Homo sapiens: one gene and its partner. The protein of the gene in region 1 purifies or fractionates together with the protein of each later gene. This does not show direct contact. Each region holds a gene or a part of one and is shown in the gene's direction. Other genes may lie near its edges.

Region 1 (3,944 bases):
CCTTCAGATACCTGGGCAGGGCAGCACTGTGTCTTCTATGTAGCTTGTATGTAGTTGCTAAGTATTTAATCATTCCCACAGATGATAGCTAATTGGCGTCTTTTAAATAACTTCTTCCCTTGGAATAATGTAAGTGGAATCATGAGAGGCTTGCCAGCTCAGTATGATTTTTGTATAGCTTGTTTAAACCTCATTTATAAAAGCTGACAAATGTAAAACTGGGATTTATTTTCATCTTTGTAATCAAACAGTAAGTTGAAGCTAACTTCAATAGTTAAACTGTCTTAATGAATTTGGAAATGAACTAGCTCTGCACCAAATACTTTGATGTTAAGTATTGTACAATTTCAGGAAGCATTGTCCTTGGAATTGTGGGACATGGCCTGACTGTAAGCTCTCAGAGAACCACAGATTTCCCAGGATAGGTTTAGAAAAGCTTATATTAGCATGGAATTATTTAGCAAAGGTTGAAAAATTTCCTGTAACATACAGGATGAGCATCCCACATCTGGAAACCTGAAATGCTTTAAAACAGAAAACTTTTTGAATACTGATATGATGCTCAAAGGAAATACTCATTGGTGCATTTTGGATTTCAGCCTCTTCAGATTTGGGATGCTTGACCGCTAAATACAATGCAAATATTTGAAAACCTGGAATCAACCGACACACTTCTGGTCCCAAGCATTTTGGATAAGGAATACTCAACCTGTATATGAATTGGGAAAGCAGTGTTTGGGTTTAGCAATGTAGCTAATCCCCTTTGTAATAAGTCTATGGAGAGAGAGGTTATGTAGAAAGGTTATGTTCATATTTTGAGAACATCTCCCATTTGTTAGGAAGGGAGAGGAGAGTTTGCTAGGAAAAAAGGGACCTATTTTATTTGGAGACAACCGTTTTCACCTTTTTGGTGGCTTAAAATCCTAACCTTTTTTGGAAGAGTCTTAACTGAAGCTTATTTTTTTAAGAGACAGTAAATCTGCAGAAATCACTTGGCAATAAGCTATTTTTTTTCTTTTTTTGAGATGGAGTTTTGCTCGTTGCCCAGGCTGTCAGTGGCACGATCTTTACTCACTGCAACCTTCGCTTCCAGGTTCAAGCGATTCTCCTGCCCCAGCCTCCCGAGTAGCTGGGATTACAGGCGCGCACCACCACGCCCGGCTAATTTTTGTTTCTTTAGTAGAGACGGGGTTTCACCATGTTGGCCAGGCTGGTCTCAGACTCTTGACCTCAGGAGATCCACCCGCCTCGGCCTCCCAAAGTGCTGGGATTACAGGCATGAGCCACTGTGCCTGGCCATACTTAACTTTTTGTTTTCTGTTTACATTTGGTATTTATTACAATTTCTCATACCAAGATCTATGAATATTAAATATAAATTTATATGCTGAAAAACAGTAAAAGAGAAGAAAGAGAAGATTGATAGAGAAATCGAGTGTACTAGGAATCTGCTGATTTTATTTGAAGGCATACATTTTGAGGTTCAGACTCCTACAGAGGGATCTTTGTTTTAAAGTGGTGCTTTGAAATTTATTTAGTGAACAATTTTTTTTTAAAGGTCTTGTTGCAGTAGGAGAAAGAGCACAAAAGAGGTCTGGGAACTTCTCTGCTGCAATGAAAGATCTGTCAGGTGAGAGCACGTTTTTGAATTTCCTCTTACCCTAATCCCACCTTGAATTCATTATTTGTTGCAGAAGTTGGTGGAAATAATTTAAAACTGGGTATTTCTCCCCCCTGCAGGCAAACATCCTGTGTCTGCTTTGATGGAGATCTGTAATAAAAGAAGGTGGCAACCACCTGAATTTCTATTGGTCCATGATAGTGGCCCTGATCATCGCAAACATTTTCTCTTTAGGGTAAATATGAATTTCTGCATTAATTATATATATTTATTAATGTGATGACTTAGAGGGTGAGGGGTAAACATGATCACAGGATTAAGATTCTGTTCATGGGTGGGGGGTTTGTATTTGTAGTTAAGTGGTGGGGTTTTTAAACACTGAAGGGTGCTTTAATACGACTTGTCAATGTCCTATTTTTTAAAAAATTGGAAAAGGGTAAAATATAGTATACAATTGTTATTTTCTAGTTGAATGTGGGGAATTAATTTAATACTTTTGTCAGTCTTTTTCTCAATTTGGAGACCTGCTCTAATTTGCAGTCCCTTTCCCAAATGATTTGGTTCTTCGGGTTGAGATTATAATTTGACTTACATAGTATGGGTTTTATATTTTTGTAAATTATTTTTCTAGCATTTAGTGAAAAAATACAAAGCTAATAGATATTAAAGTTTGATGCTGTTCTTATTGTATGTTTTTCTTGAATAGGTATTGAGAAATGGAGCCCTTACCAGACCCAATTGTATGTTTTTCTTGAATAGGTATTGATAAATGGAAGCGCTTACCAGCCCAGCTTTGCCAGCCCTAATAAGAAGCATGCTAAAGCCACAGCAGCTACTGTGGTTCTTCAAGCAATGGGCCTTGTACCAAAGGACCTCATGGCTAATGCCACTTGCTTCAGGAGTGCCTCACGTAGATAGATTGAGGTTTTATAATAATCATTTCAGAATTTTACTCTGCATCACAATGTATTTCCTCTTTAATGTTGTAAATATTTGGCAATTTAAGACATTGTGTAAAAAGCAATCTGTAAAAACATCTCCAGGCTTTGATTTTTGTACCATGGAAATTGTATTTAACCATACAGGGTTTTGGTATGTTTATATTGTTTACCTTAGTGATGTATTTGTTTAAGTGGCTAACATCCAAACGACTGTTTGAAGGCATCAGAGTAATCTTCAGTGTGGAATGTTAAATAACGCTTTTATACTGTATTTTGTACTATGATGTAACTCCCCTTCCTTATGGCTAGGCTACTGTAACACTTGCCTGTAATCAGTGAAGGGCTGTGCACCTTGTACTATTTCACAATGGGTTCTGCTGGACAGATAATGGGCCAGTGTTATTGAGGTGATCAAGATCTGTTCCACAGGGCTAATGCCACCATCTCCCCTCAAAATTTTGTAGAGGTTCTAAAAAGAAAGTGGTATGTTGTGTGATGATCAGCACTAAGTCCTGCATTCCTGTTAAAGCCACTTGGGTCATAAGAAGGGAGTAAAAAATGAAGTCTGACTAGAATTCTATTGCAGAGGCCAGTACATTTAGTATGGCATTGAGTTGTGATATAGTTTTACTTTGATGTGCATTTTGAATTTCAGCTACACCTAGATAGACGTAAAATGATAATTAAAATGCTGTAACCAACTTATCTAATAAAATTGGCAACCAGCCACTATTTTGTTGACTATGAGAAAGTTAAAAGTTTATGTTAATTTTTAGGGTCTGATAGAATATTTCATGTGTATTACAGTGGTATTCATATGCTATGTCTCTAAACTTTATTTTCAAAAGCTTAAGGCCCAAATACAAACTTCTCTGGAATAAACGTGGTGTTTTATTTTCTGGGTTATAAAGTGAACAAATACTTAGATACTATTATTTCTTTACCCAATGCTTTTGATTTTTAAGCACTTTTATTTTAAAAATGTGAATTATACAGTCCCCCCCTACACACACACACACACACACACACACACACACACACACACACACACACACACACACACACACACACACACACACACACACACACACACACACACACACCCCTATAAGCACATTAAATACTACTTTGCCGTGACAGCTCAGTGTACTTCACAATTCTTAACACTATTCTATGTGGAATACAAAATGCCTTTTTATCTGAATTAACATGCATTTAAAAAGTTTTAGTATATGTGAAAATAAAGGAATTATAAATCAGTAGGAAAGATATTAAGGTAGAAGCATCACCAATCAACTAGCTCAGTAGATGTTGTCTGTATTTATTTTCTACCTTTATGAAACAAGAACCTGCTAACAGGTAAATCGTAAAGTAACATATTT
Region 2 (3,500 bases), on another chromosome or scaffold:
TGCGCTGGACTGGAGAGAAGAGCATGTACAAGGGAATGGGTGGAGAGTGGGGAGTGAAGAAGGGGCTGTCTTCCTGGTTCAGTGTATCTAATGGCCAGAGAATTAGGTAGGACGAGGAGGGATTTGGGGCTGGATGGGTAAGTTGGGGCTAGCCGGATGCAGGGCAGGGGAGGATGTCTGTGCAGTTTTTTTTTTTTGTTTTGAGTCAGAGTCTCGCTCTGTCACCCAGGCTGGAGTGCAGTGGCGTGATCTCAGCTCACTGCAACCTCCGCCTCCTGGGTTCAAGCGATTCTCCTGCCTCAGCCTCCCGAGTAGCTAGGACTACAGGCGCGTGCCACCATGCCCGGCTAATTTTTGTATTTTTAGTAGAGGCTGGGTTTCACCATGTTGGCCAGGATGGTCTCGATCTCTTGACCTCATGATCTGCCCACCTCGGCCTCCCAAAGTGCTGGGATTACAGGCGTGAGGCACCGTGCCCGGCCACCTGTGCAGTTTTGACCTCAGCTAGTAGGAGTTTTTTTGGTGTGTTTGTTTTTATTTTTATTTTTATTTTTATTTATTTATTTTATTTTAGAGACAGTCTCTCCCTATGTTGGCCAGGCTAGTCTTGAACCCCTGGATTCAAGGGATCCTCCTGCCTCAGCCTCCCACAGTGCTAGGATTATAGGCATGAGGCACCAAACCCAGCCTCAGCTAGGAGATTTGAAGCAGGAGAATAACAAGGATGAGATCCTGTGTGCTAGAAGGATGATCCTGGCAGCACTTTTTAGGAAATATGCCACATCTCACCAAATCTAAGATGCTATTTGTCTTAATCCATTTTCTGTTGCTGTAACAGAATACCACAGACTGGGTAAATTGTAAACAACAGATGTTTATTCAGCTCACGGTTCTGGCCAATGGACTCTTGCAAGAAAGGCATTAATCCATTCATGAGAGTTACACCCTCATGACCCAGTCACGTCTTAAAGACCCCACCTCTTAATACCGTTACATTGGCAATTACGTTTCCAACACGTGAACTTTTGGGGGACATGTTCAAACCACAGCACCACCAAATCTTTTATGTGCCCTTATTTTATGCTCCACATCAAAAAAATATTTTGCCAGTTAAATTATGACATGCAATTGATCACATTTCAGAGATGCTAAAATGTGATGTCACAGGTGTCTCAAATTTGATGAAAAGCACTAACTCCCTTGCTGATGGCTTAGATTCCTCCCTTTCCCTGGATTAATGGTTAGGATGTCTCCATCTCACTAACTCATAGATGGTAAGTTACCAAGGGAAAGAAGAACAGAAGCTGGGTGGGCCCTTCCCCTTCTCTCCCCAAAGATAAACATTTACAACATTTACTGGTTGGGTCGAGGAGCACAATATCTGGTCTGCTGCTATAGGATTCCTTGGCCTGTTATTGGGCCTGTCTCATGCTGTTTCCTTTTGGGGAGTTAAATACACACACACACACACACACACACACACACACACACACACACACACATATTCTATATCCCATCCTCCAGAGTGGCAAAAATTAAAGCTGATATTATCAGGTGTTGGTGAGGCTGTGGGGCATCATGAGTGCTCATAGCCTGCTGAGCAGACTACATAGCACTATAGTCACTTTGGAAACAGTTTGGCCTGCTTAGTCAAATTGAGGGTACATCTTGCCTGTGTGTGCTAGAACATGTATGCAGAAATATTCACTGAAGCAGTGTTTGTAATTGTCCCAAACTGGAAACAACTCATATGGCTATCAGTAGACTGCATTAAAAATTGTATAGTTAGAGAGCAGCAATTAAGTAAAATCAGCTCATAATCACATGGATGAGCCTCACAAACATGTTGACAGCCCCCCACCCAAATACATGGAAAAAAAAAAAAAAAAAAGGAAAAAAATTCCATTCATTTGAGGCTCAAAACCTGAGAAAATAAACTCTGTTTATGGGGTGTATACCTAGGTCTAAAACTAAAGAAAAGGGAAGGAGTGATTCTCACTATTACAATTTACTCCACAACAACCATTTTCTCAGACACAGCTTTTTCTTCTCCTGGTTTCTGTAAGTTGCTGGAGCGAAACCTTGGATACGATGATTTGCTGGTGACGTGCAGCCCACTGTTCTTGCTGCTACAGGGAATATGAAGAAATTGCTTCTCTCTCTACCAATTTACTACCATCTTGCTGGAGAGAAAGGGCAGGTGGCTAAGATTGTTCGCATTCCTTCAGCAGATGTGTAGGAAGCATCTTCTTTGTGTCAGATACTCTGTGCTTGTGCTTTGTTTTCTCAGTCAGTTTTTATTGTCTACTCTGTGCCAAGTAATATGTAGATTCTGGTGATAAGACAGACACAATCTCTCTCCTTGTTTCATGGAAAAAGCTGGTGTTAAGCGAGTAATTACACTAATAAGTCAGGACTTAAAACTGCAGAGAAGTACAGGGTGCAGCATGGGGTGTTTTGGGGCTGTATAACTAGACTACATGTGGACCCAATCTGACAGGTCAGGAAAGAATTGCCAGAGGAGGTGGCTTTCAGCTGAGACTTCAAGCTAGAAAAGGCATTTGCTAAGTGGGAAAGGGATGGTGTTCTAGGCAGAAGGAATTACATTGTCGAAGGGCTTAGCCAGGAAAGAGCATAGCACTTTGAGGCATGGAGAGCGGTTTGGTTTGGCTGTGAGTTTGAGGTGGGGAGTGGCAGGAAATGAGCCTGGAGACACAGGCTGGGCCATGATTATCTGGGAATCCAGCTAGGATCTCCTGGGACAGCCTCCTCACAGAAGAAAGGAAGGACAGGAGTTTTGACTTTATTCCTGGAGCACCAGAAAGCCATTGAGGGGTTTAACCTGGTTGGTCACCCGGGCAGATTGGCAGTTTAACACGTGACCGAGTGTGTTTGAGGATCAAAAGGCCAGAGTGGCTGCAGCACTGGGGCAGCAAAGGGGAGAGGAGGTTTATGTAAATCAGGAAACCCTTGAGGGTTTGATGATCCCACAGTTGGATCTGATTTCAGCTTCTAAAGGATTCCTCAGGTCACTGGATGTAAGTTCTGGTAGGACAGGGAGTTTGCCACTTTTGTTCTCTGCTGTAACCTCGGTGCCTGACACATAGTCGGCACCTAATAAACATCTGCTAGCTGTTGAATAACTTTCAACATCCTGCTGCTTAAACCCTCAATGGCTTCCCAGGGCTGTTAGGATAAAGTCCAAAATTCTTAACCTGGGTCACAGTCTTGCATAATCTGTTCCCTCCTGTTTCTCCACCCTTCCTCTGCTCGCCTCACTGCACTCCACCTGTGGCCAATTGTCAGCTCCTCAAATTCACCGCTACCCTTTCTCCGGCGGATGATTTCCTCTGCCTGTGAGGCTAACCCTCCACAGCACTCCATATGGGCAGGGAAGAGTTCATTTTCCAGGCACCAAAGTGCAGTGTATGGTGGAATGGAAGGAGCCCAGAGCTGGGAGGTGCACCTCACCCCACCTCGTGCTAGTGCTGGCCTTGCTG

Evidence for each region.
Region 2: the proteins of SON (region 1) and TRIM26 fractionate together in Homo sapiens (co-fractionation; one large-scale study listed by BioGRID). This does not show direct contact.

What each region holds. Positions count from the first base shown.
Region 1 is NC_000021.9:33,574,038-33,577,981, forward strand, and holds the end of SON (protein SON), read left to right. Parts: intron 1-1,558; coding exon 1,559-1,630; intron 1,631-1,740; coding exon 1,741-1,856; intron 1,857-2,327; coding exon 2,328-2,387; 3' UTR 2,388-3,444; downstream 3,445-3,944. UniProt on the Homo sapiens protein: RNA-binding protein that acts as a mRNA splicing cofactor by promoting efficient splicing of transcripts that possess weak splice sites.
Region 2 is NC_000006.12:30,206,907-30,210,406, reverse strand, and holds part of TRIM26 (tripartite motif-containing protein 26), read left to right. Parts: intron 1-3,500.